Homo sapiens: one gene and its partners. The protein of the gene in region 2 purifies or fractionates together with the protein of the main gene of each other region. This does not show direct contact. Each region holds a gene or a part of one and is shown on either strand. Other genes may lie near its edges.

The links.
Region 1: the proteins of PCSK9 (region 2) and AGK purify together in Homo sapiens (affinity purification with mass spectrometry, with the first as the bait; one study listed by BioGRID). This does not show direct contact.
Region 3: the proteins of PCSK9 (region 2) and TUBB6 purify together in Homo sapiens (affinity purification with mass spectrometry, with the first as the bait; one study listed by BioGRID). This does not show direct contact.

What each region holds. Positions count from the first base shown.
Region 1 is NC_000007.14:141,613,910-141,617,560, reverse strand, and holds part of AGK (acylglycerol kinase, mitochondrial isoform 1 precursor), read right to left. Parts: intron 3,416-3,651; coding exon 3,383-3,415; intron 2,091-3,382; coding exon 1,996-2,090; intron 1-1,995. UniProt on the Homo sapiens protein: Lipid kinase that can phosphorylate both monoacylglycerol and diacylglycerol to form lysophosphatidic acid (LPA) and phosphatidic acid (PA), respectively. Does not phosphorylate sphingosine. Phosphorylates ceramide.
Region 2 is NC_000001.11:55,059,897-55,063,547, forward strand, and holds part of PCSK9 (proprotein convertase subtilisin/kexin type 9 isoform 1 preproprotein), read left to right. Parts: intron 1-1,368; exon of another isoform or gene 1,369-1,478; coding exon 1,479-1,660; intron 1,661-3,472; coding exon 3,473-3,651.
Region 3 is NC_000018.10:12,318,215-12,321,865, reverse strand, and holds part of TUBB6 (tubulin beta-6 chain), read right to left. Parts: intron 1,331-3,651; exon of another isoform or gene 1,204-1,330; coding exon of another isoform or gene 1,122-1,203; intron 1-1,121. UniProt on the Homo sapiens protein: Tubulin is the major constituent of microtubules, a cylinder consisting of laterally associated linear protofilaments composed of alpha- and beta-tubulin heterodimers.

The DNA of each region.
Region 1 (3,651 bases), on a different chromosome or scaffold from region 2:
GGTAACTATGGTACAACAAATCTTGACAGCAGTGCAAAAAGCAAAGCCTTGTTCTTTTTAAATAGCCTTAGGCTTCTGCCATTTTATGAGGCCTACAGAACTCTGAACTCAGGACAGACTTCCTGGATTACCTAACAGCCCTGGGGCATGCTTATAAATTAAGTTTTATAAATTTTTAAACTATAAATAGCAGCAGCAACAGTAGTAGTTTAACTACAAGAGAAAATCAGTTCCCCCAAACTGAAGACTCTCTCAGACCCTGGGGGTTGCCACACTCTGTGTAAATTAGCTTTTGGACAGGCAAGGGGTCTCCAAGGAAAATGGTCTACCCTTGGATCAATGACATATGCTATTTGGAATACTGGCTAAAGCAATTCAAAAAATCTACACTGACACAAGGAGAAGACAAGCTCTCTAATGTAACCAACACCTGAATCAGACAGGATTCATCTTGGAAAAGCAAAAATGTGAGCAATTAACTGTCATTATCTACTGCCCCTCAGAAATTCTAAACCGGGAATAAAAAGTATGGCCAACTGACTTTGGGAGGCCGAGGCGGGCGGATCACGAGGTCAGGAGATCGAGACCATCCTGGCTAACACAGTGAAACCCCATCTGTACTAAAAATACAAAAAATTAGCCGGGCGTGGTGGCGGGCGCCTGTAGTCCCAGCTACTCGGAGGCTGAGGCAAGAGAATGGCGTGAACCTGGGAGACGGAGCTTGCAGTGAGCCGAGTTCGCGCCACTGCACTCCAGCCTGGGCTACAGAGCGAGACTCTGTCTCAAAAAAAAAAAAAAGAAAGAAAAAGAAAAAAAAAGGATGGCCAACTGAAATGGCCTCTCCTGTAGTTAGGCCCTCAGGATGGCTAATGAATAGCTGAATAATCCCCATTATATTAAGGTTTGAAATATAAAAGAAGTTTGAATGAAGATCTGACATATATATATGTGTGTATGCCTAGTGTTTTGAAAACTGGACTAAGATGCTTATTAAAATATAGAATTGTTAAAAGAGATACAGTTGACTCCTAACATTACAATAGCAAAAATAAATTCACAAAAGCCAGCCTAATCAAAGAATTCCAAAGCAGAAAAAAAAATCCTTAACCAAAACAGAAAATCACTTGGGTATTATTATTATTTATTCTAGAAGATTATAACCAGAAAAATCATGAGAAAATTTTCATTAAATCATGCAACAAATATTTATTTATTGACTTCCTCCAATGTGTCACAAAGCTTACGTTAACCATCAGGCAACTGATCTCTCAGCTATCTCTCCATTTATTTGGGTCTTCTTGACAACTATTTGCTCAAAATGATGTTATTAATCACTGTCAAAGCTCAAATTCAAGATTCCTATCTTCTTGAAAGAGCAGAGCTTTGTTTACATAATGCCTTCAAGCAAAAAAGAACAATAATAACAACAATTTGCTTGACTCCCAAAAACACTGTGAGACTCACAGCAATTTAATTTAGATGTCAGAGCTACACTGCTTTCCCAGTCTACTTTGTCTACACTGTCTACCACTTTAAGTATTCCCAAAAGGATGTGGCTATATTTACTTGTTTTAGCTATTTTTAATATCAAGATAATGAAGCCAGGCTACTAGTTCAGTCTTCACAAGGGACTTGTTATTTGTCATTGCATATACTTAAAGCAAACAAATGAGCAGCACAAATATGTCTTCACTAAAGAATCTTACAATGTACAAGCACAAAAACGGTTTAGGTCAGGGATATTATCTTCATAACTGACAAAAGGACATCAAGTATTCACCTCCCTACCTGACCTGGAGACTTATTATAAGAGTCCCACAACCAAGTTGGGAGACTTCCCAATGAACTGAAAGGCTGAACTCTGATCTAGGTCCTCCTCTTAATTATTTGAAGTTTCAGGCTATCAAAACTCAAGAAAGTTATAGCATACACATAAATTTTTCATTCCCAGTCTCGCTCACCCACAAATGCTAATTCCCCACATTGACAACCTACTGGACTTTGTTTCCACTTTCGGCAAAGAGGGTATGACTCAAACTACTGGTCTCTCCCAGTGGGATAAATCCAATGGGAATCTTACTGAAGGTAGCCTGGGGGGGGAAAGAAGAGGAAAGTTTTATTGTTATGATCAGAAAATCAGGCTTAATGGAGAAGCACAGGTGTGTCCACTATGACAAATAACTGACCCTGTATCTGCCTCCCCATCTCCTTTCCACATCCTTAGACCAGTAATCAAATAAAGCTAGGTGGGTAATTTCTAAAACAAGGCAGTCAATGAAAACAAAATGACTCAGAATTTGGAAGAAATATTTTAGTACTCATTAATGACAACTGTTTGAAAGAAATTTGGTTAAGATAATGAGGGTTTTGAAGATAATATATCAATGCACTAGTGCAACAGAGACTGTATAACATTGTCACACTATTTGATAAAGTTGCAGATAAAATTCAACTAAAAATGTCTACCATTTATACAGTGACCAATGACAGGTGAAGGTGCTTTATAAACTATCTTAAGTACAAATAAGGCAAAGAGAATAAACAAGTTCAAATAATAGATGGTACTGGCATAGCAGTTAATTAAATGCCACACATACAATAGATACTGTAAGGTTCAAAACAATTCTGAGCACAATGTACTATTACCAAAGGGACTGAGAAGGATCTTCTAGCTATTGTAGAAAAGTGCATAAAATAATGTTACAAAAACACCCATGTGCCCACAACCTATATTTAACAAATGTTAACATTTACCTTTTTGCTTCATATGTTTCAAGAAATAAAACGATAGAGATACAATGAAAGTCCCTTCTAAAACTATTCTCCTCTCTCCCTTCCCAGAGGAGACCATTATCCTGAGGTTGGTGTGATTCCTTTTCATCCACATTATTATTCTTTTGCTACATATTTAAGCATCCATTAACCATACATAGTATTGTTTTCTGAATTTTAAAACACTGTAGAAATGCATAACATACCTGGGCAACCTGCTTTTTTTTTTATTCAAAACTTTTGAGATTTAGCCATGTAGATATTTATACATTTAGTTCATTCATTTTAACTGTTAGATGATTCCCACTATATGAATATGCCACAATTTCTTTTATGAAAAAGTTCTTTGAAAAAAAGATTCCATAACAAAATTTTAAATAACCATTGTCAAAGTTATTGGATACCATCAATTACCAAACCAGAAAAGTCCCCATGTGTTAATATACGTGTTCTATGACATGGGTAGCAGTATTTTCTTTTCTAAAATTCAAGAAAGCACAATTTGTACCCGTTTTAAAATATACAATGGAAAAAAAAAGTAAAAGAAAGAAAAGCAATAAAAAAGAACAGAAAAATAAAAGTTAAAATGCAATTACTCTTTAATGCTCACCTCATCTGTTCGTCGAAGAACACCAGTAACAACCTACAAATGTAATAATAAAACATTGTTATAAATAATATGTATTTCCTTTACAATAAAAGAATTGGATTCAATTTTCATAGACCATAAACTTACTCCTGTTTTCTTCTTAGAAGCTCTGTTAAAAGATGCACTGGATCTTAAAACATATAGTATTCTCCAATAGAATCAGAGCTAAATTAGATTTTATTTTTGACCTATGATCAATAATACAATAAAGGCTAAGATAAAATAATTAT
Region 2 (3,651 bases):
GTTGCAAGGAGATGGGCAGCATCTAGGGCACTGGCCTGGAGTATCGCAGGTGCTTTGCCTAAGGTGGTGCAGTCCAGGAGAGGCAGCTCCAGAGAGAGGCCCCCGGCTGGGGCTGAAAGGAGGGCAGACCTCGGTTTGAATTTCACCCTGCCGCTCTATAGCTGTGTGACTTGGGCAAATTACTTAACATCTCTGTATGAGGAAATGATGAGTGCTAAGCACTTAGCTTAGTGCCGGGACAATATAAATTCTAGCTATCGTTACTATTGTTTTCATCACCCGTTGCTTTAAAATCCAGCCTCTGGTATAGGCAACTATTGACGGGCTACCCTGTGTCGAAAACATGCCCAGGCAGGTAGCAGGAAGTCACAGATGGGGACCTCTTGGGGCATCAAGGGATGGTGCCCTGAGGCTGAGCTGTTCTGGTTGGGTGGAGCATGAGAGGTCTGGGAAGACAGTGGGACTCCAGCCTGGAATAAGAGGCTCAGAGTTGATTCTCGTCTGAGCACGTCCAGGGGAACCACTGAGGGTTTGGGAACAGGAGAGTGAGGGTGAGAACCTGGTTCTGGGCACAGCAGGCTGGCATGTAGGATGGATGTTCAGGAAAGATGAGCATAGTCAGGTGGCTGGTGCCCTTGTCCAGGGGAGAGGCTCCGTCAGGTTCAGGGGTCCTGGCTTGGAGGGAAGTCCGCCATGCTCTAATCACGCTCCCCTTTGGAAGTGCTCAGCCGATGAGCTCACAGGCACATGTCAGTTTGAAGTCATGGAATCTGACTCCATGAAGCGCACCTCAAAGAGCACCATTTTGCAGCTAAGGGAACTGCAGGCTGGACATGCTGAGTGGCTGCCCCGAGCCCTTGCAGCTAGGACATAGAGAATGCTAGTAACCACAACCCTACCATGTTCAGAGCACATGCCAGGCTCCATGCTGGGGCTTCGCACGTGTCATCTTCACAGTGTCCCTGTGAGTAGGTGTGGTTTCTCTTTCCATCTTACAAATGAGTAAACAGAGCCTCAGTGTAGCTAAGTAACCACTATTTTAGGTTTCTTAGCCAATGGGTGTGTCTGACTCCTAAGCCCATGGAGGGCATTCTGAGGTGGTTCAGACAGACCCCGGCTTACCCTTGAACTTCTGCCTGCTGGCTGCATAGGGAGGGGCTGGGGGGAGTTTGAGCATCTCAGGCCATAGAGCCCCTGCCTCACTGTCTCCATCTCTGGGTGGAAAGATGGTGTTTTCCCTGAGAAACTAAGGCTCAGAGAGGTTGAATGGCTCTCCCAAGGTCACACAGCTGGTCAGCTGCAGAGTTGAGAACACAGGAGTCCTGGTGCTCAGGCCAGCATCTCTTTTTTTCTTTGAGTTGTTTCTAGGTTTCCTAGCTCTTGCCTCAGACCTTAAAGAGAGAGGGTCTGATGGGGATGGGCACTGGAGACGGAGCATCCCAGCATTTCACATCTGAGCTGGCTTTCCTCTGCCCCAGGCTGCAGCTCCCACTGGGAGGTGGAGGACCTTGGCACCCACAAGCCGCCTGTGCTGAGGCCACGAGGTCAGCCCAACCAGTGCGTGGGCCACAGGGAGGCCAGCATCCACGCTTCCTGCTGCCATGCCCCAGGTCTGGAATGCAAAGTCAAGGAGCATGGAATCCCGGCCCCTCAGGAGCAGGTGAAGAGGCCCGTGAGGCCGGGTGGGTGGGGTGCTGCGTGTCTCTCCTGCACAGCTTTTCTGTGTCAGTTTGTGCCACCACCATACCGCCATGCATCAGGGTGGCGGTTTGCCAGGTAGATGCTGTGGGCAGCTTCCGCCATTGTGTGGACAGCATGTATATGTGTCTCTGTGTGGCTGGGTCTGTTTTTGCTTTTGTCCAGATCAGTAAGGTTTGCTACCTGGGTACCCCACTCCACTTGGAGTAGAATGTGCATAAATATGGCATAAAGAAATGCAATATGCATGCATTTATTGATTGATCTATTTTTTTCTGAGATGGGGTCTTGCTGTGTTGCCCAGGCTGGTCTCAAATTCCTGGGCTCAAGCAATCCTCTGGTCTCAGCCTCCCCAAGTGTTGGGATTATAGGCATGAGCCGCTGCACCTGGCCTCTCTGATCTATTTAACAAACCTGCTGGGAGGGTCTCAGGGTCAGGAGCAGCACTGGGCTCTGAGGACACAGAGCTCACTCAGCCGTGACCCAGAGGGGGTGCCTGAGCTGCATGCTGAAGGTTGTTAGCATGACCAGCAAGGCAAGAAAAGGCCCTGCCGAGATTAGCAAGGCATGTGCCAAGCCCTGGAATGTGACAGCCGGGCCTTCTAGAAACCTGAGTGTATAACTCTCCTTAAAAGCCAGTAGGAGCTCCTCAAAAGGCAGCCCTAAGGAGTCCACTCTTAAATGAACTCAGAGTCAGTTTTAAAATGCAAGTCTGTGTTGATTCTGGTCTGGATGGTGCATTCCTCGAGAGCAAAAGACAGTCTTGGTCTTGGATCCACTTGCCCTGGGTACACTGAGGGCTGCTAGGTTCCAGGTGCTCTTCCTGGCACTGGGGAGGGATACAGGCCCAAGAGACATGCTGTTCTCCCTCCTGGAGCATCTATTTTAGTGGAGGAAGACAGAAAACAAACCATTAATATAGAGTACTGAAAAGATGCGATGGAGAAAACTATAGCAAGGAAGGGAATGGGGTGGGAGAGAGGTCAGGAGAGGTCTCGCTGACAAGGTGGACGAAACAGGCCATGAGGCAGAGAACATGTTCCAGGCAAAGCAAAGGCCCCCAGGTGGGGATGTGCAGGGAGTACCAGGAAACCAGAGAGGTGGGAATAGTTATGAGATGGGGGGTGCCTCAGAGGGGACAGGGCCAAGTCAGGTGAGACCTGAGGGTCACAGTCAGCAGTGAGCTGGGGCCATGCAGGGGTCTGGCCTCAGAGGAGTGTGGTCTGGCCTGGATCTGAACCTCTCACTGTGGCCTAGCTGCTGAGCTGAGAAGAGATGACAAGGACCTTGGGCAGAAGCAGGGAGACTGGAGGGAGGCGGTGGAGGGTCCAGGCGTTGGGGCGGGGCTCAGGCTGGAGTCTGAAGGGAGCCTGCAGGCCTGGTGGGTGGATGTGGGTGGGAGAGGGGGAGGATGGCACCAAGGCTCGGGCCCCTGGACAGATGGAGTTGCCATTAAGTGGGATGGGGCAGGCTATGGGGCCATCAGTTTCAGAGGGATGAGTTTGGCACTGGCATGGTAGGCATCTGTCTATCTCCACGGCCCTCAAACCAGGCATGAAGCAGGAGCTCACGTGTTTGGTCAGCCATGGTGCAGAACCGCCTGGGTGGGAGGTGCGGGGTGGGAGATACACGGTTGTGTCCCAAATGGGCTCTGAGCCAGCGAGGGCCGTCTGCACTTTGGCCTCACAGAAGGATGTCGGAGGGAGAAATGAAGTGTGGGTGGGGGTCCCGGGCCACGCTAGACATGTGCTTTCTTTTCCTCGGGCTCTGGCAGGTGACCGTGGCCTGCGAGGAGGGCTGGACCCTGACTGGCTGCAGTGCCCTCCCTGGGACCTCCCACGTCCTGGGGGCCTACGCCGTAGACAACACGTGTGTAGTCAGGAGCCGGGACGTCAGCACTACAGGCAGCACCAGCGAAGGGGCCGTGACAGCCGTTGCCATCTGCTGCCGGAG
Region 3 (3,651 bases), on a different chromosome or scaffold from region 2:
AATTTATTCCAGTATACTTAGAGTTGGGAAAATTGAAATACTAATTTCTAATATGACTTTGTCAATTTAATTTTTAATAAAATGTTTTAAATATTTATTTTCATGAAATTTTGGGCTGCAGATTTAACTAATTCAAGTCATAAAAACTTGCATTGCATTATACAGACCTCTCCCCACTTACTCCAACTTGACTTTTGTCTACACACGGCTGGTGGCAACAATTCACAGCCACTGCCAAAGACCAGCCTCTCTGGTTTCACGTGGGCAGGTCCATCCCTGATGCTGCACTCACCCTGGGGGCACTGAACTATGAAGCAGTGAAACCACCAAGGCTGCCTCTGAGAGCTGCCAAGTGCTACATCGGGTAAGCAAGCTGCCTTTCACTTGTCAATCTTTAATTAGTGGACAAGGGGCTCCCATGCAATTTGGGACACGGGCCTGCTCACAATGAGGTCTACTGATGGCACCCCTGGCTTCTGCAGTACATAACAAGTGCAGCCTTACACAGTGGCTCTACTCTTGGGGGGGATGAAGCATTTATCAGTGCTACACACTGTAGGTGTTCAGTGCAAGAAAAAACAAATTCTGTGATTCTTCATTAAGTGTACTGAACTTAATGTTAAAATGTATGTACTGGACTGTTAATAACTCATATCACATATAAAGGATACCCTCCTTCAATATCTAAAGAAGTCCTTAAATCAGTAAGAAAAACAACAGCCATTAGGAAAACAGGCAAAGGCTATAAACATACAGCTCACAGGAAAGGAAATTCCAATAGCTTAGGTACTGGAAATAATGCTAAACCCTTCTCATAAGGGAAACGCAAATTAAAACAAGGAGATTCTATTTTTCTGCTGTGAAACTGACAGAGATCCAAACACCTGAGTTGCACTGCTGAGGGTTTGGGGAAGGCCACTTCCCACGGGAGCTACTGGAGATAGCAAGGGCAGTGGGCTGTAGAACAGCTGAGCTACAGCTATCAAAATTATCCCCCTAGACACAGCAATTACACTTCTGTAAGTTTTTCTAGATAGACCCATACATGTGCAAAATGACATATATACAAATGTTTACTGAGGAACAATTTATAATAATAAAAAGGGGAACAACCCAAATACCTATCAACTGAAGACTGGTTAAATCCACGGCGGTATCTCTGCAGAGGATACTATCAGCCATCAACAGGAATGAGGCAGCCATACTTGTGAAATGGAAAGATCTTCAAAATACGTTGCTGGGGAGCCAGGGAGGAACACTAGGGTACTAAACAGTGTATACAGCTGGCTCCATTGTATGTGTGTAAATATATGCGTCTGCCTGAACATACCTGAAAGGACATTCAAGAATCTTAACACTAGTTCGGGGTAGGAAGGAGATCAACTTTTCACTATATACCCTTTTGTTCCTTTTAAGTCCTAAACCATGAAAATGTTTTACCTAGCTAGCTAGCAAAATGAAAAAAAAAATTACTTTATTAAAACATTTACAATGCAATTAAGAAAGCACAGGTTGTCTTTGAAGGATGGGGTCCTAAGAGAGTTCATTTCTAGCTTTATGACATTTTAACTAAAACATTTATTTTATGATAAGTGAATATTAAAGTATAAAAAAGGAATTTTTTATTATTATTATTTTAGAAATGGGGTCTTCCACTGCTACCCAGGCTGGAGTGCAGTGGTGCAATCATAGCCACTGCAGCCTCCAACTCCTGGGCTCAAGGGATCCTCCTGCCTCAGCCTCCTGAGTAGCTGGGACAATTAAAAAAACATTTTTTTGGCTGGGCACGGTGGCTCACGCTTGTAATCTTAGCACTTTGGGAGGCCGAGGCGGGTGGATCACGAGGTCAGGAGATTGAGACCATCCTCGCTAACATGGTGAAACCCCGTCTCTACCAAAAATATAAAAAAAATTAGCATGGCATGGTGGCGGGCGCCTGTAGTCCCAGCTACTCCGGAGGCTGAGGCAGGAGAATGGCGTGAACCCGGGAGGTGGAGCTTGCAATGAGCTAAGATCGCACCACTGCACTCCACCCTGGGCGACAGAGTGAGACTCCGTCAAAAAAAAGAAAAATTTTGTAGAGAGGGTCCCCTTATGTTGTCCATGTTGGTCTTAAACTTTTGAACTCAAGTGATCATCCTGTCTTGGCCTCCCAAAGTGCTGGGATGGCAGGTGTGAACGCCTGAGCCCAGCTCTTCTTTAATGAAAAATTTTAAAATGTCATCAGTAAGTGGGAAATTACTAAATGATGACATATACAATGGTAGGCACTGTGACTGTCACGGAGGATGTCTGAGATACATTAATGAATTTTTCAAAAGGCTGCAAAATGGTGTGTATAGCAGGATCCCATTTTCCCCAGACAAAATCAGCTCTGTGTGCTCACCTAGGTGCACATGGACACAGAAAAATGTCAGCAGGGCCGGGCGCGGTGGCTCACACCTGTAATCCCAGTACTTTTGGGAGGCCGAGACAGGAGGATCACCTGAGGTCAGGAGTTCGAGACCAGCCTGGCCAATATGGGGAAACCCCATCTCTACTAAAAATACAAAAAATTAGCTGGGTGTGGTGGCAGGTGCCTGTAATCCCAGCTACTCCAGAGGCTGAGGCAGGAGAATTGCTTGAACCCAGGAGGTGGAGGTTGCAGTGAGCCGAGATTGCGCCATTGCACTCCAGCCTGGGCAACAAGAGCGAAACTCCGTCTCAAAAAAAAAAAGAAAAAAAAAAAAAAGGAAAAAGGAAAAATGTCAGCAGGACACAGCACAACTGTCTACACACTCGGTTATCCCCCTAGGGAATAAAACCTCAGGGGCCACCAGTAGAAGGGATGACAGCTTTCCCTTTCTGCACTGTATACACAATCTATGTGTACTGTTTGAAAAAACCATGTACAAGCACTTTGTTTTAACTTTGACATGAAAACATTAAACACTTTTTTTTGTATAAGACCAGCTATGGGAGCTCACACCTGCAATCCTAGCACAGGAGGGTGAAGTGGGAGGACTGCTTGAGCCCAGGAGTTTGAGGCTACAGTGAGCTATGATCACACCACTGCACTCCAGCCTGGGTGACAAGGCGAGACCCCATCTCAAACAAACAAACAAACAAAACCACACATTTAAATATTGAACACTGAAGTTTCCAGAGAGCAGAACTGGCCAGCTGAAACTGACCACAGAGGGCCCTTGCACTTGTCTGCAGCATCAGCCTCCCTAGATCTCCGTCTCAGTCCCACTGAGAAATCAGCTCAGCCTTTCTCTCCTATTGTCTTTGCCCCATTTGGCAGTCCAAAGCCCAGTGTCACTGGCATGGCAGGCCCTATGGCTCTGCAGAGGGGCCGGGCTAGGCAGATGCCTGCTGTGTGCTTGCAGCACACCCCGTGGGCCTGGCCACTTTAGTACTCTCAGGTGGCCGTTTCCTTGTGTTTTTCACAAGCCGTAGACAGCATCTAGTATGTGACTGTTCTCTTACAAACAGGGGATTCTCTTCTTCCTGCCCAGCTGTGTTGCACAGTGAATCCTAGCTGACTGCCTTCTCTTAGTAGGCGAGAAAATGGTCACCGTCCTTCCTAAGCCCCCACCAACTTCTCTCCACCCCTTCCCCACCCAACCTAGCAGGCAGCACCTGGCAAAACTACAACATAGGTATTGG